Linked DNA regions of Homo sapiens: regions 1 and 3 are each linked to region 2. Evidence: fine-mapped expression QTL. A gene starts in region 2. Each other region holds a variant in brackets. All regions are shown on one strand. Distances are from middle to middle.

Region 1 (8,177 bases), 51 kb before region 2:
CACCGTTCAGATTCCCCACCCTCCATCCTTTCTGCCTGGTCTCGAATTTCATCTAATTGGAATCATAGAATATATACGTTTTTGTCTGGCTTCTTTCTTTTCGCGCAGTGTTTTCAAGGGACACCTGATTGATTTTCATTTCTAGTCTCACTGCATTGTGATCAGACAGTAGACTTCTTTCTGCTTTCTGGAACTTACAGGCTTTCTTTGACCATTTAGAAGGCCAGTTTGCATGACTGTTCCAGAGGAACTTGAAGAAGGCATTCCTTAGTTTTGTTTTTGTTTTTGTTTTTGTTTTTGTTTTGAGATGGAGTTTCGCTCTTGTCACCCAGGCTGGAGTGCAATGGTGCAATCTCGGCTCACCGCAACCTCTGCCTCCCAGTTTCAAGCGATTCTCCTGCCTCAGCCTCCCGAGTAGCTGAGATTACAGGCATGCACCACCACACCCGGCTAATTTTTTGTGTGTTTTTAGTAGAGACGGGGTTTCATCATGTTGGTCAGGCTGGTCTCGAACTCCTGACCTCAGGTGATCCACCCACTTCAGCCTCCCAAAGTGCTGGGATTACAGTCGTGAGCCACTGCGCCCGGCGGTATTCCCTAGTTTTAAGCTACAGAGTTCAATATGTATCAGTCAGAACTACCTTATTAATTATATTATTTGGGAATTTTGTTTTATTTGTATTCATTCAGACTTAGAGGTGAATTGCAATTTCATTTAGTTTCTTTCTCTCGACATCTTCGTGTGTCATCAGTAATTTCTGCTTTATAGATGTTGCTGTGCTTGGTGCATGAGTATCCCTCACGGTTACGTCTTCATTGTGCATTCTGCCCTTCATTCGGGAGAGCCATTCTTTGTCTAGTTCCATGCATTTTACGTGATGCTAAGATTGGGAAGCCTGCTTCCTTATTGCTTATTGCCCAGCTTTCTGGACTCTCTCTCTGAATTGCTTTATTTTAGGTGCATCTCTCATTTACAGCAAAAGAGGTGAGGGTCTTGCTTTGTGGTCCAATCTGAAAAGCCTTTTTTTTTTTTTTTCTCAAGGCAGGGTGTCTCTCCAGTTGCCCAGACTGGAGTGCAGTGGCGCGATCTTGGCTCACTGCAGCCTCAACCTCCTGGGCGCAAGTGATTCTCCCCACCTACCCTCCCAAGTAGCGGGGGCTACAGACACGCACCACCATGCCTGGCTAATTTTTTTGTATTTCTGGTAGAGATGGGGTTTCACTATGTTGCCCAGGCTGGTCTCGAATTTCTGGACTCAAGCAATCCACCCACCTCGGTCTCTCAAAGTTATGGGATTATAGGTATGAGCCATCATGCCCGGCCTTGAAAAGCTTTTTCATATGTAAGTTCAAGCATTTTTAGTCTTGGTTCTGTCATCTTATTTTATATTATGCTTGTTGTGTTTTACTTTTTTTTGTTTTGTTTTTGTTTTGTTTCTGAGACAGGGTCTCGCTCTGTCACCCAGGTTGGAGTGTAGTGATGTGCTCTCGGCTCATTGCGATCTCTGCCTCCCAGGCCCAAGCGATCCTCCCACCTCAGCCTCCTGAGTAGCTGGGACGACAGGCACGTGCCACCACGCCCAGCCAATTTTTTGTAGTTCTGGTAGAGACAGTGTTTTGCTATGTTGCCTGGGCTGGTCTCAAACTCCTGAGCTCAGGCAATCCACCCTCCTCGGCCTCCCAAAGGGCTGGGATTACAGATATGAGCCACTGCAACCGGCCCAGTTTTTAAAATGAAATCTTCCACTGCTACTTCATTTGTAAGCCTCTGTGGTGTCAGCTCTCAGGGACAAGACCAGTGGGGAGTTCTGCCCCTTCAAGGGTCCTATGAGTTGAGTGTCATGCCTGTACGACCAGGCATCTACCACCTATAACCAGTTTTTTTTTGTTGTTTCTATAACCGCTTTTTTTTTTTTTTTGGCTTAGTACATTCAGTGTTTACGGAGGTTTCTTTCCGCATCATTTCCCTATTGTCTCCTGATGACATCCAGCTGCTGGTAATGTCCTCAGGGAGAAGACATAGAAACAAAGCTCCTTGGGTGCCAAGGGTTGAAAACTCCATTCCTGCACTGTCGAAAAGGTCTAGAGAGTGAGTCTCTTATGTAGTTTAATATTTTCTAATAGCTACATTAAAAAGGTAAAAAGAAACAAGTGAAATCGATTTTAATAATATATTTTATTTAACCCGATATTATCTAAAAATTATTTCAACAGGCAACCACCCATACTATAAGATTATTGAATTATTTGAAGACTTTTTGGACTGAGTTTTCGGAATCTAGTTTGTAGCTCGCACTCACTGCACGTGTCAGTGAGCCAGCTCACGCGCCTGCAATCTGGAAGGATCGCTGTGGCCAGCCGTAGCATCCTTGCCACTCACCTTCCCTCCTCATGCGCCTTCTACGTGTGACTCTAGCGTCTTCTGCCACAGAACGCAGCTGTGGAGAAACACTGACCCACGTTCTGTCTCTGTAGATGTGTGTGTTCTGCACCTTTCACAGAAATGGAATTGCAGAATATGTGCTCTTTTGAGCCTGATTGCTTTCATATGGTGTGTTGTCAAGGGCCATTTGAATTGCAGCTTATATTAGTGCTTCATTTTTATGGCCAAATAACATTCCATTGTCTGGATATACTGCAGTTTGTTTACTCATTGGTTGACGGACATCTGTGTTGTTTCCACTTTGGGGCTGTTGGGAATGGTGCTGCTGTAAACATTCATGGGCAGCGTCCTGTGGGGACAGGTGTGTCATTTCTGCTGGGAGTGCATGTCTCCAGGAGTGGCAGTCCTGGGCCACTGCTCCACACTTAACCTCTCAGGCACATGCCAGATGGTCTTCACTAGGCTGTGCCAGTTCACGTCCCCATCAGCAGTGTGCCAGGCGTTCCCGTCCTTCTAACTTTGTTTCCATTTCTCTATCTTTTGTCTTTTTTTTTAACTCATTTCTGTCCTCTGTGTTCCGCTGTGTTTCCCGGTGTTTGTTTCTCCCTGTGCTGCTTCCAATCTCCACTTCATTTGGGTGGTGGCTTGATTTTTTTTCTTTTACTTTCTCGACTTCTGCCAGGTCATGTTTCACCTTCTCCTCTTTCCTTGCCGTTTCTCTCCTGAGTTCTTACATGTTTAGTTAGTGGTCTTTCTTCATGGAGCAGCTTCATTCAACTACTCGGGAGGCTGAGGCGGGAGAATCACTTGAGCCCCAGTGGTCTAGGCCGCAGTGAACCGTATTCATGCCACTGCACTCCAGCCTGGGTGACTGAGCAAGACCCTTTCTCTTAGTTTCACCTTTGCCCCATCAACATTTTGCAGTTTGTATGTTTTGCTGCTCTTGTTCACACTTGGTGTCTTGTCACCTTTTGTCCATCTCTGAACTCAGGCAGTGTCTTAGAGTCCATTAGTCCATTGCTGGAGAAGCAGAAGGTCTTCAGGAGCAGCATGCCTTTCTTTCTTAATTTTTTTTTTTTTTTTTTTGGAGACAGAGTCTCACCCTGTCACCCAGGCTGGAGTGCAGTGGCACAATCTCGGCTCACTGCAACCTGTGCCTCCGGGGTTCATGCCATTCTCCTGCCTCAGCCTCCCTAGTAGCTGGTACTACAGGCACCCGCCACCACGCCCGGCTAGTTTTTTATATTTTTAGTAGAGATGGGATTTCACCATGTTGGCCAGGCTGGTCTCGAACTCCTGACCTCAGATGATCCACCCGCCTTGGCCTCCCAAAGTGCTGGGATTATAGGCGTGAGCCACTGCGTCCAGCCGGCAGCACCCCTTTCTTTCGGAGTGGCGCATTACTTCTCTATGGCGGGTGGTGGGTAACCCTGCATGGAGGCCAGCCTGGGCCTTCAGCACCTGGGCGAACACCTGGGGTGTCCTGGGCAGACGCGTGGGGTGCCCTGGGCCTGCTGTTTGCAGGAGCTCCCTGTGGCAGAGCGGGGGCCAGAAGAGCCTCCAGGCTTCCCAAGTCCAGGGCTCCCCACTCCGCCCCAGGCCTCTGAGCCAGGCCAGACCCTGAGGCTTCTCAGGGGCCACCCCCCCAGCTCCCAGAGGCCCCTCCTGTCCTCCAGCGAGGCACTGACCCACCACTTCTCACAGCATCCGTATGTGTGTTTTGGTGGCTGTGGGTTGTATCTGTGACCTATTTTCCCTCAAAATCAAGTTCAGGGAAAAGGTTTTTTCGTTATTTTTGTTTTTTTTAATTCTTGG[G/T]AGGGAAGGTGATAATATTGTTACTTACCTGAGAGTCCCCCTCGGAGACCCCCAGAAGCTGGTTTTAAGGGAAGAAAGAGTAAGATCCCTTTCTGTGTCTCTGTCTCTGGCCCCGTCTCTGGCCCCATCCCCGTGTCTCTCTGGCCCTGTCTCTCTGTCTCTGTGTCTCTGTCCCCGTCCCGTCTCTCGCTGTCCCTGGCTCTGTCCGTCTTTCTTCCCCATTTAAGGAGCGCCTCCTCTCCGGTCCCCTCTGAGGAGCGCTGGATGGAGGACAGGGCCTCCCGGAGAGGACTCCACGGTGGGTGGTGGGAGGGAAAGACCAGGGGGAGGCAGAGGCTGCCGGTGAGAGGCGTCTGCCAAGTAGATGAGGGGCCGGGAGAAGACCCCGTGGCTGGGGAAGCAGGAGTGGGGAGGGCGGGGCCTCCGGGCCGAGGGGCGCGGTCGCTGTGGTCTGTGGAGGGGCTGGCGAGGCTCCCGCCTCTGCTCTTGCTGGAGCTCTTGAGTGAGCCCTGTGACGCCTGCTAGGTGAGGTGGCAGCCAGTGAGCGCGCCCCACCGCCCAGCGCCGCCCAGCCTCCGCCCTGACTCCTCTGCCGCTCCCCAAACAGGGCGCGGTGGCGTGACCCTGGCGCTGGGGGGCGAGCGCGGCCCTCCCGGTCCCGCAGGCGCAAGAGAGGGCGGAGATGCGGCGCCTGAGGCGGGGCTGCGCTTCCGGGGCGGGGCCGGCGGAGGCTGGAGGGGGCCGCCCGGGAGCAGAGGCAGGACTTGCGGCGCGTGCCCCTCACCCTAGCCCGGGGCTGTCCTGCCTCGTGGGGAGTGTGAAGGCCATGCCCGGCGCCGCGGCCCTGGTGCCCCTGTTCCACTGGGACCCTGGGGGGCGCCGCCAGGCCCCTTGGCCTCTTCCTCGGGGCCCTCGGGACCCAGGGGCCGGTGGTGGCCGTGCCGGGGACTCGGGCGTGAGGGGTGGAGATCGCGGCCCCGGTGCAGCAGCTCAGAACCTGGACTCTGGATCGCTGCTCCCCAGCGCCCGGGGTGCCGCTTCCCACAGGGTTCAGCTCCCATGCAGGCTGCGCTCACCAGTGGAAGTGGGTCCACCCGGTCCCAGGAGAGCCAGAGCCCCGTGGCAGTCGCTGTGGGGTGTGCTCCGCACAGGCCAGAGAGCCGGCCCAAAAACCTGAGGTTTGCAAAGCCTCTTTCTTTCTTTTTTTTTTTTTGAGAAAACGTCTCTGTCGCCCAGGCTGGAGAGCAGTGACACGACCTCGGCTCACTGCAACCTCCGCCTCCCGGGTTCAAGCAATTCTTGTACCTCAGCCTCCCGAGTAACTGGGATTACAGGCGTGTGCCACCACGCCCGGCTAATTTTTGTATTTTTAATAGAGACAGCGTTTCACCACGTTGGCCACGCTGGTCTCAAACTCCTGACCTGAGGTGATCTGCCCGTCTCGGCATCCCAAAGTGCTGGGATTACAGGTTCAGTGAGCCATTGCGCCCGGCCCAAAGCCTCTTTCTTTTCAGTGCTGAGCTGGATAAAGTCTACCAAACTGAAAGGTCTCCAAGGCTATAGCTGGCTGTCTGAGAAATTATGGTGTTTGTTTAGCCCATCTTAGGACTTGGGCTATCCCAGGTGACTGAGTTTTGCTGTTTCACACCTCCCAAGGTTCTTCTCATTCTTCCTTTTCTCCATTAATGGTAACTTGTCTTCTCAATTGCTCAGGCCAGAAACCTCCGTTACCATCTTTTCTTACGTGTTTCACATCCAAACCATCAGCACATCCGGGTGGCTCTGCCTTCAAGATAGATCCAGAAGCTAGGTCCTTTCCACTGCCTCCACCACGGCCACCTGGCCCAGGCCACCCTCCTCTGCCACAAGGGTTTTTGCCATTGCCCTCCCTGGCTTCCTGTGGTTGCAGTCAGAGACCTCGTCCCTCCCACTCAGCCTTCTCGAGGGCTTCTGTCTGCTCAGAGTCAAGGTCACGGCCCTTCCGAGGGGTGAGGATCTCCTTCCCCTGGCCACACTGGCCTCCTGTTCCTCTCCAGCAAGACCAGGCCTACGTACCCAGGACCTCCGTCTCTGGCACTTCCACCTGGTCTGCTCTTCTCCAGGGTAGCTGCAGGGACCCTGATCCCCTGCCTGGTCTGTGCACACTTCTCAGGGAGGGTGTCCTTGTCCCTTTTGGGTAGGTTTTCACAGTGCCCCAACAGCCCTGTCTCCCTTTCTGCCTCATCTCCTAATGTACATTCAGTTCTGCATCATTCACTCATTTCTTGTGTATTGTCTGCCCTCGCTAGGATGTATGCTCCGTAGGGATGTATGACTGTTCCGTCAGCTTCTCCCTGGAAGAGTGTCCAGCACGTTGAATGATGAAAGAATTGATCAGCTATGATAGATCACAAGCCTCGTTCCAGAGGCCACACATTGGATTCAGAAGCTTCTATTCCTTATCTCCGTGAAAGATTGCAACGAAAATCTTGATTTAAAAATTCTCTTATTGTCTAATTAGGAAAGTTTTATTGAAGTCCAAATATTCCCATCCTCACCTTCCCACTTTTCACCGGGAGTCTGAGGAGGAAATACTGATATAAAAAATTTTTAAATCATCATTTAAGAAAAACAAAAAAGGAAATACTGAAAGACCACAGGCCAGTCTGGAAAAGGAGCGGACTCTCCCACTCTCCTGCTTCAGGTCACCTATGTTTGCCCTGTGCAGCCAGCAGGCAGAGTGCTCATTACCTGCTCTCCACCCTCGGTTCTCACTCTGGGCCCCAGGGCTCGGCCACTGGGCCAGGCCACATGTGCGGCCCTCCTTGGTTCCAAGCTGTTCTTGGACGTGGTCTCCTCCACCCCCAGAGCCTTTGCTTTCCTTTCCCCCGATCTTCTTTTCCCAGACTTCCTGGAATTTATAATCCAAAGGTTGTGTAATTTCAGAAGCTGCGATGGTTCCAAGAACTCCTGTCCCCGTCAGTCCGTCTTCTGCTTGCGCGGGCCTGGAGGAGACACTGGGGGTCAGTCCTGATCCCGTCCCCATCAGTCTGTCTTCTGCTTTTGCGGGCCTGGAGGAGACGCCGGGGGTCAGTCCTGATCCTGTCCCCGTCAGCTGTCTTCTGCTTGCGCGGGCCTGGAGGAGACACTGGGGGTCAGTCCAATCCTGTCCCCATCAGTCCGTCTTCTGCTTGCGCGGGCCTGGAGGAGACACTGGGCATCAGTCCGATCCTGTCCCCGTCAGTCCGTCTTCTGCTTGCGCGGGCCTGGAGGAGACACTGGGGGTCAGTCCTGATCCTGTCCCCGTCAGTCCGTCTTCTGCTTGCGCGGGCCTGGAGGAGACGCCGGGGGTCAGTCCTGATGTGCAGGCCGGTCTCTGTGCTTGGGCATCTTTGGGCTCCGTAGATGAGGCTTGTGCGGCCACAGAGCTGCTTCTGTCCCTGCTGCTGCTCCTGGGTGTCAGTGTCCGTTCTGTCAATTGAAGCACTGAGACTTGAGGGTTAAGCAGGCCTGGGAAGCAGGTCTTTGGGATTGCCTCTGGGGATCAGTCCTTCTCTTCCAGCGCCCCTGATGGGTAGCATGCAGTGGGGCTTTCCTGTGGTCCCCGCACAGGTCTCCCTTAGAAAATGAGTAAGAGCAGGGCCCGTGCATCCAGCCAGGGTGAGGGTCATGTGAGTGAATCCTGAAAAGCCGCTCGGGAGCACCCAGTCCTTGCTGAGCGAGGCAGGAAGCAGGGGTCCCTTTGAGTTCGCCCAGCAGAACAGCCAACCCAGCGGCCCCTCCCTGCTGTCCTGTCACTGCACCCCCACCTCTGAGTTCCAGGCCTGTGGTGTCATCCTTCACACTTAGTGGGATGAGAGACTGAACCCCACAGGAGACCTTCTAAAGGGGTCTCCTGGCCACTACACAGGCTGCTGTGAAGCCCCAGCCCCTCCTCAGGGAAGCGGGGTCTTACTTCCCTTTTAAACCCCGCCTGCCCCTGGGCCCTCACACTCTGGCT
Region 2 (8,177 bases):
TGCCTGGAGACAAGGCAGCTGAGGCCACAGAGATGACAGCAGGCCACAGTCACACAGCTGACTGGCCACGGACCCACACCAGCTCCCAGACAAGGGTGTGCAAGGCCTCCCTGCTGTCAGGGGTCTTCCAAAAAACTGCCCCAGGGGAACAGCATGCCCCTCCTCCAAGCTTCAGGGAATCCTGCGCACCCCGGGGTTCACTGGCCCAGAGCTGTGCCCAGCACCTGGACAGCACTTGGAAAACAGCTGAGGAATGTGCCAATCAGGGAGGTGCCACATCAGGGCCGGCGCACCACTCACCCCAACAGCAGCACCCAGCGCCTGCCACACCCAGGGGCAGCTCATAGCACGGGGTGCCAGGACAGGACCCAAGGTCACAGAGGTCAAAGGCAGGGGGCTGAGGTCTGCAGGGCCAGACCTGATGACATGGGGCAAGCGGACAGAAGCCACACTGGGCAAATCCAGGCCAAGGCAGCTGGACAAGTGGACAGCGGGCACCGAGTAGGGGAGACAAGCCCTAAGCCTCCCGTGGGCCTAGAAGCATGTGGACAGCCGGGAGCAGCAGGAGCAGGGAGGCAGGGCCAGGAGATGCCTCTCCAGGGCAGAGATGGGAGCGCACAGGAGGGTCACAGGTGAGGCAGGCACAGCCAGGTGAGATGCGCTGCTGTTCTCCGGATGCCCTCCGGGAGCCAGTCTGCTTGGACCCCCATGCTCTCCCCTCTCCTGGACGCTGGAGCCCTGAGGCTCGCTTCTGACCATCAGAATCCAGCAGAGTTACCCGTGACTTCTGAGGGTATATCCTAACAGCCTGGCAGCATCTACTCGGGAGCTGTCTGGGAAACCTGCTCCTTGCCACTCCTCCTTGGGACACAGCACCATGCTGTGAGAAGCCCAAGCCCCGCTCGGGGGCCCCTGCAGGAAACCAGGCAGCCCTAGGACGTGCCACCCCACAGGACTGCAGGTCACGCGGCCCCACGGATGCTGGACCACAACTACAACCAATCAAGAAGCCTGTGCCAGCTGCTCAGCATGCCCACCAGCCTGCAGAACCACAAGAGACCCTGAATGCTGTGGTTTGAGCCCACGCTGGTGGCTGGGCAGCTCCTGACACCTGCAGCAGTGAGATGGCACCGGTGGGCACTGGGCAGCGCCAGGATGGGTGGGGGCCAGCTCGTGGGGTCCCTGTGAGCCTGAGCCACAGACCCTGGATCCCTCCCTGAGGTCCCATGGGACGGGCAGGCTGGGCATACCTGCAGAGAAGATGTGGCCAGCCACGGCCAGGAACGCATCGGTCACCACAGGCTCAGACTGCAGGGAGATGTGCAGCTGACGCGCCACGTTGCGGTAGACGCTGGGCCGGATCATCTCCAGCTCATCGCCTGTGTGGTCACAAGAGCAGGTGAGAGGCAGCCCACGTCCCAGCTTCCTGGGACACGACTGGCTTGGGGCACACCCTGCACCTGACCCCCACCTGACCATGCTTGAATTCCAGCCTGTTCCTCACTTGTCTGATTCCCACCTCCACTTGACCCCATCTGACCTCCCTTGGGCCATCCCCCAACCTTGGCCCCTAGGGACCAGAAGACCAAGGAAGTACTGAAGGCGCCCCCAGTCCCGCCCCTCTGACGAGCCAGCCCCTAAGCCTAGCCGGCCAAGCCGGTGGGGCGGGAATCCTGCGAGAGCGTGGGCCGTGCCTGCTGGTGACTCACAGCCGACAGGCAGCCGAGCTGCCCAGAGCAGGAGGGACCAGGCAGACGGCCAGACCCCGACGTGGGGAGGGGCTGGGCAGAGAAAGCACTGGGGTGAGAGCAGGGGAGCCCGACGTGGGGAGGGGCTGGGCAGAGAAAGCATTGGGGTGAGAGCAGGGGACAGCCCGAGAGCCCGGCTCAGGCCCTAGCATGGCTCAGGGACCACTCAGATGCAGAGGCTGAGCCGCTGTCCTGGGCCACCCGCACTGCCACGCTCCCACCTGGGCTGGCTGGGCCGCTGTCCTGGGCCACCCGCACTGCCACGCTCCCACCTGGGCTGGCTGGGCCCCTGTCCTGGGCCACCCGCACTGCCACGCTCCCACCTGGGCTGGCTGGGCCGCTGTCCTGGGCCACCCGCACTGCCACGCTCCCACCTGGGCTGGCTGGGCCCCTGTCCTGGGCCACCCGCACTGCCACGCTCCCACCTGGGCTGGCTGGGCCGCTGTCCTGGGCCACCCGCACTGCCACGCTCCCACCTGGGCTGGCTGGGCCCCTGTCCTGGGCCACCCGCACTGCCACGCTCCCACCTGGGCTGGCTGGGCCGCTGTCCTGGGCCACCCTCACTGCCACGCTCCCACCTGGGCTCTTGCTGCCAAGGGGATGTGCTTGGAGGTGGCACTGCATCAGCCCTGCCCCTGGCAGCCGAGGATGGCCCCTACAGGCCCACCGCCCCAGTGCTGCCTGTGGCACCCTTGGCAGCAGCAGCGCACAGGCACGGGGCAGATGGTGCCGAGAATGCCACAGGGCCCTGGGATTGGGAGTCCGCAGCCCGGCCAGTTCTCCAGCCAAAGCAAACAGGGTAATGCTGCTGACCGGACCATCCCAGCTGATAAAGGCTGCTCTGTATCTCATTAATTAAGATCTGGAAGCAGAGCAGAGCCCATGAGAGGCTGGCTGGGGGCGGGGGACGACATGGAAATTCCCAGGACTGACCCGGCAGCTCCCAAACACAGATCTCCGGGGCTGCTGCAGGCTGGCCCCAGACTGAAGGTGGGGACACAACCCGGGCTTCTTCCTGTCTGCACTGCCCAAGGGCAGGGAGACAGCGCTGGCCTCAAGGGACTGACCCTGAGCAGCCGTGAGGGCAGATGCAGGTCTGAGCTGTGTCCCTCTGGGGTCCCCCTAGACATCTGGGACTTCTTCCCAGCCATTCCAGGGGTCTGGCATCATCTTTTCAGAAGGCCACTAAAAGGATCCCCTAGGGTCATTCTCAGAGCCCGACTAGAGGCAGCAGCAGGCGGCGGATCTCATGGAGCCCCACCAACCCCCTAGCTCCCACCCAGAGACCTCTCCCTCCTTCTGAACTTCTCAGATGGGACTCCACCTCCTCCTGGAGGCTCTGTGCTGGTCCCCATGGATTCTGTCTGCACCCCACACACACTCCTGGGCAGGCCAGGTCTACACAGCTTTGCTCTCTGGGCCCAGCCCACCACGTAAGGGCAGGGGCCACCTAGAGCCCATGCCAGCGCCAGCCTGAGAGGAGGCAGCGTGTCCCCTCACGGGGTCGTGCCCTCCGACTCCAACCCCCTGCCTGGAGAGCCACCGATTCAGTTTCACCTATGCTGTCACCTCCCCTTCCCGGGCTCAGCCACAGGCGCCCCATGTGCCCTCTTCGGGCATCACATAAACATTCCCAGGTGACGGCCACAGCCCAGCTGTGGTGAGGGGACTGGACAGTCACAGTGGGGCTGGTCCCTCCCTCTTGGGTCCAGACCTTGGAGACGGTGGGGGCAGCCAGTGGACCGTGTGTGACCCCAGAACCGAGCACCCCCAGATGTCCTCACAGCACCAACGAATACTGAGGTTTTGGCTACCCAGCCCGGTGGGCGCAGTTTCCAATGGGGGGGCCTCGGAGGCCTCGGAATCCAGAGGGCAGCGGGCGGGATCTCGGCCAGTAACAGCAAGAATCTGTTTTCCAAAATAAACATCGGGACACGTGCTCCTACAAAGGGTTTCTGTGCCCAGCTGAGAACAAGGGTCACTGTGGAAGCTTAGCCACCCACTAATAGATTATTCTTTCTGGAGCTTTCTATTGTTTATGGCCAGCATGACTGAAATCTGGGCTGAGCAGGCAGCTGATGGGGGGGCCTGTGGCGTGGGAGGCCTGAGAGGGCAGATCCGGGAGCACCCGCCTGGGTGGCCCTGTCCCGAGCGCCTGGCCGTCCCAGGCAGGGGGTGGGCGCCCCTGGGCCGGACCCCCATCTCGGCCTCGGAGGGAGGCTGCGGCCCAGCAGGGGAGGAGGCGCAGCTGGGGATCCCACCAGGGCGCACTCACCCAGGCGCAGCAGCACCGCGCACACCTCAGCCAGGCGTCCCGGGACCGGCGCGGCACGCTCGGGCGCGCTCCAGGAGAGGCCGGCGCGCAGCAGCCGCGCGTGCACGTACTCCCGGCCCAGCGCCTTGGCCTGGGCCACCAGCTCCTTGTCTGTGGGCGAGCGGTCAAAGGCGTCCATGATCTCGGCGGCGAAGACCGAGGAGCGCCGCAGCACCTCCATGGCGGCGACGCGGGTGGGGGGCGCCGCACCTGCGGGCACAAGCGCTCAGCCGGGTGGAGGGAGGCGGCGCGGGGAACGGGGCGCGCGGGGCGCCGGGCTGGGCGTGGCCCTCGGGAAGGGCCGTAGCCGGCGCCGGGTCCGCTCTCGTTTTTTGTGCCCCAAATCTTTAAAAACCCAGCGCCACCTTCTTTCAGAGCCCGAATTCAGCTACAGACATTCCCCGAGGCTGCCAGGGACCGGTGGGGCCGCGGGGAGACGGCGGTTTGCTCCGGGGCCGCCGGGCCCGCCCTCGAAGACGAGTGCGTGGGCGGCGGGGGCGGAGGGCACAGCCCAGCGCGTCCCCCACGGCGACTGCCAGGACCCGGCCCTCCCCGCCCCGGCCCGGGGCCGCCCACCTCCGCCGCTGGCGTCCTGCGCGCGTGTCCCCGGCCTCGCCGTTCCCGTGGCACCCCGGGCACCCCGGCACGGACGCCACGCCCGCCGCGCTCACCTCTCCCGCCGCATGGCGCGGGCGCCGGGGTGGAGTTCTGGCTTCAGGATCTGCTCGCCGCCGACGACGACCTCGACCCTTCCATTCAGACCCGCGAGGACGCGCGCCCCGCCCCGGCGCCCGCCCCGTCCACGCCCGAGCCGGGAGCGCCAGGTCCACGGGGCTTCCCGCGCTCTTGGGGGGCTCCTGCCGCGGCGTCGGGGGCCTGGGCAGCGAGGTGGGCAGCGCGCGACTCCCAGCTGGCGAGAGGCTGGGCTTGGGGCTTGGCCTTCTAAGGGAAAGGCAACCCTGGGGGCGGAGTCGGGGAGACGCTTTCCGAGCTTCCCCGCTTAAGGAGGACCGAGCGAGTTCCCTGGATGCGCCCGGAGAAGGCGACCAGGCCGGAGCGGCCCCCGCAAGGCAGAGCAGTGGGGACCTAGAGCCAGCCCCAGCCGCCTGGGTGTTCCCCGGGGTCCATTTGAAAATTGGGTTGTCTTCTTCGTTCGTAGAGGTTCTTTCCAGAGTCTGGAGACGTGTTCTTGGTCCGGACGCATGCCCTTTGTATTGTAGATGGATTATTGGATTCGCATTTATTGAAGTTATTGCAAATATCTTCCTCTATTTTGTGGTTTACTTTTGCTTTGGATGAACAGGAGTTACTCTTAGTGATGTCCAATTTATCAATATTTTCTTTATGGTTAGTACCTTTTTATTGGGATATCCTCCTGTATTTCCTTTTAGAAGCTTGTTTTAGGGCTCATATTTAGATCTATGATTGATTACATATTAATTATTGTGAATGGTGTGGTACGGGGCTAGAGCTCATTTTTTTTCGTGTAGATATCCAATTGACCTGGCATCATTTATTGAAAAGCATCATTTTTTTTCCACCGAATTGGAGGAGTCCCCAACATCTCAACATAAATCAGCTGAAGAGTGTGTGTGTGTGTGTGTGTGTGTCTCGGAACTCTATCCCACTGGTTTATTTCTTTATCCTTGAATCAACCTCACACAGTTTGAACAATAGGATTAACCAACTTGGCCTAATTCACGTGTGTACAACACTATAAAATACTTATTCTTCCCATGTGCACATAGGATGTTTATCGAAATAGACCATATCATGGACCTTATACAAGTCTCAGCAAATCTCAACGGATTGAAATCTTACAGTGTGTCCTCTCTGAATTAAAAGTCAATAACAGAAAAATTACTGGAAAATCTGCAAATGCTTGGAAATTACATGTCACACTTCTAAATAATCAATGGGTCAATAATCACAGTGGAAGATTAAAATATGTTGACAAGAACAGTGAAAAATAAGACATATCAAATGCTGTACAGTGCAACTAAAACACTGCTTAGAGGAAATTTGATAGCTTTAGAAGAAGGATTGAAAATTAGGCCAGGTGAAATGACTCAGACCTGTAATCCCAGCATTTTGGGAGGCCTAGGTGGGCAGATCACCTGAGCTCAGGAGTTTGAGACCAGCCGGGTCAAAATGGTGAAAACCCCGTCTCTACTAGAGATACAAAAAATGAGTTGGGTGTGGTGGCAGGTGTCTGTAATCCCAGCTACTAAGGAGGCTGAGGCAGGAGAATTGCTTGAACCTGGGAGGCGAAGGTTGCAGTGAGCAGAGATCATCCCACCTGCACTCCAGCCTGGACAACAGAGTGTGATTCCATCTCAAAAAAAAAAAAAAAAAAGGAAAAAGAAAAATAAAATTACTGCTCTAAGCTTCCACTCAAGAAGCTAGAAAAGAACAATAAAACTAAAGATGAAAGGAAATAATAAAAATAAGAGCAGAAATTAATGGAATAAAGCAAAAAATAGAGAAAATCAACAAAGCCAAAAATTGGTTCTTTGAAGAGATTAATAGAACTGATAAATCCCCAGAAAGATTGAGTAAGAAAAAAGATAACACAAATTTCACTATCAAGAATGAAAAAGAGGACATCACTGTAGATACTACAAGCATTAAAGGGATAAAAAGATAGTATGGAGGACTTTTTGACAGTGCATTTGAAATTTTAGATGATACACAACTTACCAAAACTGACACTAAAAGAAATAGAAAATCTGGATAGTCCTACACCAATTAAATGCATTGAATCTGTAATTTAAAATCTTCCCACAAAGAAAATTCTAGGTTCAGATGGTTTCATTGAGAAATTCTTCTCAACAGTTAAAAAAATACCACCAGTCTCATACAAACCTGCACAGAGACTAAAAATGAGGGAGTATTTCCCAACTCATTTTATGAGGTCAATGTAATTTTAATACCGAAACCTGTCAGGAACATTACCAGAAGCTAGGAAAGCTATGGAACTTCTATCTGCTATGACTTTCCTGTCTGGGAAGTAGGAAGAATAATAATACCTACCTCCTAGGATTGTTGAGAGGACTGAATTCTTTTTTTTTTTTTTTTTTTTTGAGACGGAGTCTCGCTCTGTTGCCAGGCTGGAGTGCAATGGCGTAAACTCGGCTCACTGCAACCCCGCCTCCTGGGCTCCAGCGATTCTCCTGCCTCAGCCTCCCGAGTAGCTGGGACTACAGGCACCTGACACCACGCCCGGCTAATTGTTTGTATTTTTGGTAGAGAGGGGGTTTCACCATGTTGGCCAGGATGGTCTCGATCTCTTGACCTCGTGATCTACCTGCCTTGGCATCACAAAGTTCTGGGATTATAGGCGTAAGCCACAGCGCCCAGCCTGGGAGGACTGAATTCTTAATCCATGTCATGTAGTAAGTGCTCAGTCATTGTTAGCTGCTTTTTCAGAAAAGCTGTAGTACAGTAAAATCTGAGGGTGCATTTTAATGAACTCTTTAATGTAGAGTCTAGAGCTCCTTGGACAGTGTGCGCCTCAGATTTCTGAAGAGCAGTCAGGTTTGGGATTCCCTGTAGATAGCATTACAGAAATGCAGAGAGGGAAAAGATCTCGCCCAAGGAGTCACTGCAAGACTGGGCATGGCCAGACTGTAAACCTTGGGGTCTAACTCCATGGTTCCTGAAGTACCTCTGTCAGGGGAAGAGCCTGTACTTGCAGGCAGGAGACCAGGAAGCTCACACCTGCAACCTTCCCGCTGTGTAGCCTCAGGCAACTTCCTGCCCCATTCACAGGCTCAGTTTCCTCCTGTGCAGAATGAACTCATACTTCCTGCTTCCTGTCTCCTGTTGGAGCCGTCTCCTGGGCTCTGACATGGGGGTAGTGGGCCACTGGGCATAATTGATAGACATGTTCTGCATCCCAGGAGCTGCAGAAACCAGGTAAAGCTGTGTCTCTGGATGTTCAATATGGAACATTGCTAGCAGTAAGGAACTGAAAATGACCTAAGTGTGCCAGGCGTGGTGGCTCATGCCTGTAATCCCAGCACTTTGGGAGGCTGAGGCATGTGGATCACCTGAGGTTAGGAGTTCGAGACCAGCTTGACCAACAAGGTGAGACTCCGTTTCTACTAAAAATA
Region 3 (8,177 bases), 70 kb before region 2:
ATTTATCGGCTCACTTCATTCGTACAGTTTCTCCTCTAAGCACACCCGAGAAAGGCCATCTGTCCCCCGAGAGCCCATTGACCGCAAGAGGCTGAAGAAAGATGTGGAACCAAGCTGCAGTGGGAGCAGCCTGGGACCCGACAAGGGCCTGGCCCAGAGCCCTCCCAGCTCATCACTTACCGCGACACCGCAGAAGCCTTCCCAGAGCCCCTCTGCCCCTCCTGCCGACGTCACCCCAAAGCCAGCCACGGAAGCCGTGCAGAGCGAGCACAGCGACGCCAGCCCCATGTCCATCAACGAGGTCATCCTGTCGGCGTCAGGGGCCTGCAAGCTCATCGACTCACTGCACTCCTACTGCTTCTCCTCCCGGCAGAACAAGAGCCAGGTGTGCTGCCTGCGGGAGCAGGTGGAGAAGAAGAACGGCGAGCTGAAGAGCCTGCGGCAGAGGGTCAGCCGCTCCGACAGCCAGGTGCGGAAGCTACAGGAGAAGCTGGATGAGCTGAGGAGAGTGAGCGTCCCCTATCCAAGTAGCCTGCTGTCGCCCAGCCGCGGTCAGTACCGGAGCCTCGCGTACCCATGTTCCCTTCCCGTTAGGAGGGGTTTCTCTGCAAGGTGGCCAGCGTCCCCTGAGCATTTCTGGGAGGTGTCACAAGCTCCCTGCGCTCTCAGGAGGAAGCTCTGGTCGTAACCATACCTTGTGGATGAGGGAATCCAGGTTAGAAAGCAGGCCTCACTGCACCTGGTCCCACAAGAGGCATCTGTGTGTGTAGGGATGTAGGCCGTGAAGGAGGCAGGCAGCACGCGTCAGCCAGGAGTGCCTGAACGCCTCCGTGGAGAGTGCACAGGGAAAGATAGCTTCTGTTTCATACCTTATGCAACAGAAATTCCAGATGAGTTAGGAACTAGATGGAAAATAAGAGAGTAAACTCTCAGAAAAAGCAAATATCAGAAACTGTTAAAATCATGAGGAGGTTCTTTCTGTTCACGTTTTAAGGAATATCCTTGAAGTTAAATCATCATGAACATTAATAATTATTTTAACATCTATTCAATTAAAACATCTGTTGAGGCTGGACTCGGTGGCTCACACCTGTAATCCCAGTACTTTGGGAGGCTAAGGTGGGCAGATCACTTGAGGTCAGGAGTTCGAGACCACCCTGGCCAATATGGTGAAACATACAAAAACATACTACTAAAACATACAAAAACTAGCTGCACATGGTGGTGCACGCTTGTAATCCCAGTTATTGGGGAGGCTGGGGCAGGTGGATTGCTTGAACCTGGGAGGCAGAGGTTGCTGTGAGCCAGGATTGCACCACTTCACTCTGGCCTGGGTGACAGAATAAGACTCTGTCTCCAAAAAAAAAAGACACACATCTATTGAAACACATTCTCAGCCGGGCATGGTGGCACACTCCTGTAATGCCAGCTACTCAGGAGGCTGAGGCAGGAGAATAGCTTGAACCTGGGAGGCGGAGGTTGCAGTGAGCTGAGATGGCACCACTGCACTACTCTTTGTCAGCCTGCGTGACAAAGAGCACAACTCTGTCTCAAAAGAGAAAAAAAAAAAAAAAGAAATACAATACATTCTCTGTTGCAAAAATTAAAACTGCAGAAATAGACTAAGAAGTGGTAAAAAAATTATTGTTTGTCATCCACCTCCCAAGTTCTATTCCTTGTTGTTATTAAAAATTTGGTGTGTAAGCCAGGCACAGTAGCTCTTGCCTGTAATCTCAGCACTTCGGGAGGCCGAAGAGGGAAGGTTACTTGAGTCCAGAAGTTCAAACCAGCCTGGGCAACATAGGGAGACCCCATCTCTATAAATAATTTAAAAATTAGCCGAGTACCATGGTGCACGCCTGTGGTCCCAACTACTTGGGAGACTGAGGCAGAAGGATAGCTTGAGCCTGGGAGGTCGAGGCTGTAGTGAGCTGTGATTGCACCACTGTACTCCAGCCTAGGTGACAGTGAGACCCTGTCTCAAAAAACAAAATTTCCTGTGTAATCTTTGTATGTATATTAGCTCTATTTCTGTTTTTTCCCATATTTTACTGTTAAGTATTTCTTAAAATTGGTTTCTAGATGTTTACATATGGCGGATGGTTTCCTTTGCCTGTCGTGTACATAGGAAAACCATATTCCTACCACATTGTTGATTTCATCTGGATCAATGCTTGTCAATAAGTATATGATAGTGGGACAAGATTTTCAGGACCTCCTGGATCCTCAGGGTAACAGCTATTAGCACAACCGAAAACAAAGCCCATCCGACATGTTCTCCAGATGTGTCCTGGGGAGGAACGGTGCCACTGAGTACTGCTGACCTAGATTTTCAGATCAAATCTAGATTTTCGGATTCTTGGGTTGAAATTGTATACTGTTTTTCTCTTGGAATTTTATTTTATTTTTTGAGATGGCATCTCACTCTGTTGCCGAGGTTGGAGTGCAGTGGTGAGATCTCAGCTAACTGCAACCTCTGCCTCCCGGGTTCAAGCAGTTCTCCAACCTCTGCCTCCTGGGTTCAAGCAATTCTCCTACCTCAGCCTCCCAAGGAGCTAGGATTACAGGCCCCTATCACCACACCTGGCTAATTCTTATATTTTTAGTACAGATGATGTTTCACCATGTTGGCTACAGTTGTGAGCCACCACACCAGGCCTTCTCTCGGAATTTTTTTTTTTTTTTTTTGAGACGGAGTTTTGCTCTTGTTGCCCAGGCTGGAGTGCAATGGTGCAATCTTGGCTCACCGCAACCTCCACCTCCCGGGTTCAAGCAATTCTCTTGCCTCAGCCTCCCGAGTAGCTGGGATCACAGGCATGCGCCACCACACCCAGCTAATTTTGTATTTTTAGTAGAGACAGTGGTTTCTCCATGTTGGTCAGGCTGGTCTCGAACTCCCGACCTCAGGTGATCCACCCGCCTCGGCCTCCCAGCTTCTCTTGGAATTTTAAAGCTGTTTGTAGTTATCAGAGCTAATGCTGCTTTAGACAGCTTCTCTCTGTTCCTCTTGGTTAAACTTCCTGAAGTTTGTCTCCATTACAGGTTTTTGCAAACAGCCAGCCCTTCGTGTCTCTGAGTTGTTGTTTATGCTGGTTAATCCTTACATCTTTTTGCTTTGTTGGGTTTTTTCTTGTAGTTCTGGTTCCTGGCGTGTTCCTTAACCCTGCAATGGAGGCTGTGGCTCTGCTGTTCCTTGGGCTGCGTGCCATGGATCTGCCTCTCTCTGCTTTTGTTGCTGTTCATTTCTGAGTCGTTTGTAATTCCAGCCTCGATGCCCCCTTTAACCCTGTGGTTATTTAAAAGGGTGTTGACAGATTTTTCAGTGCACACAGATTGGGCGAGGGGAGCAAATTTTTTTGTAGTTACTTTAAAATTTGATTGCATTAAGGTCTAATGGTAAGGACTGAAGGAGTTCTGCTTTTTGGAATCCTTTGAGACTTCACTGTGGCTAACACAGTCCCTTTTTGTGACTGTTGCAGTGTAGTGCTAGAAGAATGTATCCTCACCACTCCTTGGTTATATTGTTCCCGCCTGAAGCTGGGCACTTGCTTACTTGTGTTAGTCAGCGGACCAGAGCGTTCCCTAGCTTCTTGTCAGGCTCTCGGTCTGCTGATTTCCAGGAAAGGTGAGGTAGACCTCCCCTGTGGTTCTGGAGGTGCCCGTTTCTGCTTGTATGTCCAAGTTTTGCTTTCTGCCTCAAGACCATGCTGTTTGATGCATAAGTTTTCCTGTTACCAACACAAGAAACTCCTTTTTGTCCCGTTTAACGTCTTATTTCTTCATTTCCTTATTTTCAACCTTTTCATCTTATTTTATAGTTATATTTTTAACTCAATCCAAAAGTCTTTTTGTAGAGTAATTTAGTCATTTACAATTGTGATTACTGATAAGTGGGAATTCGGGCCTACCTTTTTAATTTGTTAGGCTTCCTCACCGTTTTCTTATTATTCTTCTAGTGGATATGTTTCAATTTTTTCTTTTCTTTTTTTTTTTTTAAGAGACAGGGCTTTGCTCTGTCACCCAGGCTGGAGTGTGGTGGTCCTATCACAGCTCACTGCAGCCTTGACCTCCTGGGCTCAAGC[C/G]ATCCTCCCACCTCAGCCTCTCGAGTAGCTGGGACTACAGGCACATACCACCACATCCGGCTAATTTTTAAAATTTTTTGTAGCAATAGGGTCTTACTATGTTGCCTGGGCTGGTCTTGAACCCTTGGCTTCAAGGGATCTTCCCGTCTCAGCCTCCCAAAGCTCTGGGTTTATAATTGTGAGCCACTGTGCCCAGCCCATCTTTCAGTTTTAAAAACAAACACGTGAGCCCCTCTTTGTGTAACTGTTGAGAGCTGATCGGTCCTGTGTGCCACCTTCCCTAGGTGGAGGCTGTATGTCATCTTAGTTCCGGTGCTTCTTATTCCCCCATCAAGCAACCATGATTATTAGATTGAAGTATACATTTTACTGGTTACTTTATTTACCATTGTTTGCTGTATCCAAGTTTCCCCTCCTTTTTGGCAGTATTTAATGACTTTTTTTTTTTTTTTTTTTTTTTGAGACAATCTCAGACTGGAGTGCAGTGGCATGATCTCGTCTTACTGCGGCCACGACCCCCTGGGCTCCAGCGATCCTCTCACCTGAGCCTCCTGAGTAGCTGGGACTACAGGCATGTGCCATCATGCCCGGCTAATTTTTTGTGTGTTTTTTTGTTTTTTTGTTTTTTTTGTTTTTTGTTTTTTTTTTTGTAGAGATGGGGTTTTGCCATGTTGGCCAGGTAAGCCACCGCACCCAGCCATGACTTTAAAAAAAAAAAATCCTATTCCAGTACAGTTTTGAGGGGGGCGCTGGTGACTGTTGTGGCAGTCCCAGGGTAGATGGCGATGGCTCAGACTTTAGGGAGGAAGTGGCGGTGGTAGCAATGCTGGAGTACTGGCTGGGTTCAGGGGGTTGAGAGGCAAAAGATCAGCAGGCCAGCTACAGGGATTAGGCTTGAGCACCTGGAGGATGCTAAGTGGGAGAGGCTTTTGGGGAGGAGCAGGAGATGGGGGTGAGGAACGGAGTTTGAGATGCTCTTGGGTGCTGAGGCCAGAGTTTGAACAGGCAGTCTGAGGCCAGCAGCTGGCCTCTGGGATTTGGGCATGTGAGTGTGGGGGTGGAGGGCAGAGGTGTTTGAAGCCTTGGGGGGTCGAGTGTGGTTCTAGGCTGGGCTTCAGTGCCCGGCCCAGGAGCAGGCCTCGCTGAGAGAGGGGCAGCCGAGGCGGGTCCAGGGGAAGGCTGAGGGGTTGTTCAGGAAAGAAGGGTGACTTGCTGTGCTGGGTGCTACTCTGACCAGAATGGAGAGAAGGGGGCTGGATGTGCCCCAGGATAGTGGAGAGAAGGGGGTTGGATGTGCTCCCAGGGTCGCTGGTTACTGGAATCTCACTGGAGAGGCTGGTGGAGCTGGGCGGAGAGGGGGCCAGTGATGAGGGGTCAGGGCCAGGTTTGGCCGTGAAGTGGAGTGAGGCAAGTAGACAGGAGCCAGAGGGAGTGTGGCTCCAAAGAGAGTGTGTCAGTGGGGAGGGCTGTGAAGGGCCAGGCTCTGGAGAGCAAGGGACAGGTGCAGGCACCACCCTGCATGCCTTGTGCCCCTCCAAAGGTGAGGCCAGGCCACGGCTGGGCATGCGGTGTGGGCACAGGGGTGGCAGGAGCGAGGGTGTGGTGGGGAGAGGACATCCTCTCCCTGGGGTTGCAGTCTGTCACGCCGGCGTCGCAGGCCCTGGGGTCTGCACTCTGTGGTTCTTGCTGTCCGTGTGGATTTGTTCTTCAGTGACAGACTCTTTGGGTCATTCTTTAGGGATTTATGTGGAAAGCGCCGCACACTTGTCTATTCAGCTCGCTAGCCAGTGTCTGCTTTTGGGCAGGTTCCCCAAACTGAAGGATGCGGGCCAGTGGGCTTCAGAGGTGGGTTGAAGCCACGCTCCAGAGGCAGTGCCCGGTGGCGTTCTGTGGACGTAGTGTTCTTCTCCGCCAGCAGCGATTCCTTGAGGGTACATTGTTAGCACGTCTATGAACCACGTGTTCGCGGTCTTGCTTGCCCACTGAGTTATAAACGTTCTTGATACAGTAAGGATACCAACGCCTGTTAAATATTATTCACCTGTTTCCTAAGTTCAGCAATTTAACACTTGCTTCAAAATCTGTTTTCTTTTTATTCCTTTATGGATTCATTATCTACATATAATTCTTGAAATCTGGATTGTCAAAATCCAAGTACAAAACAAGTGAACCTTAATGTAAACTATGGACCCTATTTGTAGCAATGAATCAGTATTGGTTCGTAACTTGAGACACACATACCCACACTAATGCAAGATGTTAATCATAGGGGAACAGGGCAGGGGGTGAGAGGGTGAAGGAATTCTCTGTACTACCTGCTGGATTTTTCTGTCCTAAAAACAATCTGTTAATAAATAATAAATGGAAGCTGAAGAGTTTGGAGAAGTGCAGACAAAACAGGAATGTCAGAAGAGTGATAAATGGTGAAACTAGGGACATGTGTGTGGATTTATTACACTAATCTGTTTAATTTGTAATGTTCAAGATTTTTCACAATATAAAGTTGTTCAAAAATCCAGATTAGCTGGGCTCAGTGACTCATGCCTGTAATCCCAACACTTTGGGAGGCCGAGGCAGGCAGATCACTTAAGGTCAAGAGTTTGAGACCAGCCTGGCCAACAGGGTGAAGCCCTGTCTCTACTAAAAATACAAAAATTAGCTGGGCATGGTGACACGTGCCTGTAATCCCAGCTTCTCAGGAGGCTGAGGCAGGAGGATCACTTGAACCCGGGAGGTGGAGGTTGCAGTGAGTCGAGATCACGCCACTGCACTCCATCCTGGGTGACAGAGCGAGACTCCGTCTAAAAAAAAAAAACAAAAACTGTTAAGAAATAGCAGAAATAATAACAGTGTTTTTTTTCCTCCTTATGATGTGAGCTGTAGTACTTTGTTGTTGTTTTTTGGTTTTTGTTTTTTTGTTTTGTTTTGTTTTTGTTTTTGTTTTGAGACGTAGTTTCGCTCTTGTTGCCCAGGCTAGAGTGCAATGGCGATATCTAGGCTCACTGCAACCTCCGACTCCCTGGTTAAAGCAATTCTCCTGCCTCAGCCTCCCAAGTAGCTGGGATTACAGGCATGTGCCACCATGTCCAGCTAATTTTTGTATTTTTAGTAGAGATGGGATTTCACCATGTTGGCCAGGCTGGTCTCGATCTCCTGACCTCATGATCTGCCCGCCTCAGCCTCCCAAAGTGCTGGGATTACAGGCGTGAGCCACCAAGCTGTAGTTTTTTTATATGTCCTTTATCAAGTTGACAGAATTCCCATTTATTCCTGTTGCTGAGAGCTGTTATCATGAATGGGATGTTGGAATGTGTCAGATGATTTTTTTGCACCTATTAATGTGATCCTGTGATTTACGGTCAGATGATTTGCCTGTTGATGTGACGGGTTACGTTAATCAATTTTAGAGCACAGAGCCAGCCTTGCATACCTGGAATAGATCTCACTGGGTCATGGCAAATAATTCTTTTTATACATTTTTTTTATTCAATCGCAAATGTTTTCTTAGAGATTTTTGCATCTGTGTTCATGAGAGATATTTGTCTGTAGTTTTCTTTTTTCTTTTTTTTTTTTTTTTTTTTTTTTTTTGAGACGGAGTCTTGCTCTGTTGCCCAGGCTGGAGTGCAGTGGCACGATCTCAGCTCACTGCAAAAACCACCTCCCGGGTTCAAGCAATTCTCCTGCCTCAGCCTCCCTAGTAGCTGGGACCACAGGCGCCCGCCATGACGCCCGGCTAATTTTTTGTATTTTTTAGTAGAGACGGGATTTCACTGTGTTAGCCATGGATGGTCTCGATCTCCTGACCTCGTGATCTGCCTGCCTCACCCTCCCAAAATGCTGGGATTACAGGCGTGATCCACACACCTGGACTCTTTTTCCTTTTTCCTTTTTTTTTTTTTTTTTTGAGACAGTGTCTCACTCTGTCACCCAGGCTGGAGTGCATAGTACAGAGGTGTGACCTCGGCTCACTGCTGCCTCAACCTCCTCGGCTCAGGTGACCCACCTGCCACAGCCTTTCGAGTAGCTGGGACTATGGACACGTGCCGTCACACTGGCTAGTTTTTTAATATTTTTGTACAGACAGGGTCCCAGCCT

The links. PIP is the estimated chance that this variant, and not a neighbour inherited with it, causes the effect.
Region 1: its variant is fine-mapped to the expression of BOK in lung (TOPMed, PIP 0.98).
Region 3: its variant is fine-mapped to the expression of BOK in thyroid (GTEx, PIP 0.91).

Annotation. Positions count from the first base shown.
Region 1 is chr2:241,607,017-241,615,193 of GRCh38, reverse strand. All of the region lies in intron 2 of THAP4 (THAP domain containing 4), which reads left to right. Among named protein-coding and RNA genes, the nearest start is that of THAP4, 26 kb to the left of the region's middle. RefSeq lists enhancers at 3,915-4,435, 4,652-5,152, 5,153-5,654, 6,561-6,730 and a silencer at 4,633-5,202. The variant G/T (reference allele first, on the strand shown) is at 4,199.
Region 2 is chr2:241,555,550-241,563,726 of GRCh38, reverse strand. BOK (BCL2 family apoptosis regulator BOK) reads right to left here and starts at 4,982. Exons shown (of 5, transcript NM_032515.5): 1 at 4,734-4,982; 2 at 4,024-4,272; 3 at 1,251-1,379. The coding sequence starts at 4,243. BOK-AS1 (BOK antisense RNA 1) reads left to right here and starts at 4,584. Exons shown (of 2, transcript NR_033346.1): 1 at 4,584-4,950. RefSeq lists silencers at 3,960-4,089, 4,140-4,209, 4,240-4,319.
Region 3 is chr2:241,625,291-241,633,467 of GRCh38, reverse strand. THAP4 (THAP domain containing 4) reads left to right here. Exons shown (of 6, transcript NM_015963.6): 2 at 1-551. Among named protein-coding and RNA genes, the nearest start is that of THAP4, 7.8 kb to the left of the region's middle. The variant C/G (reference allele first, on the strand shown) is at 4,083.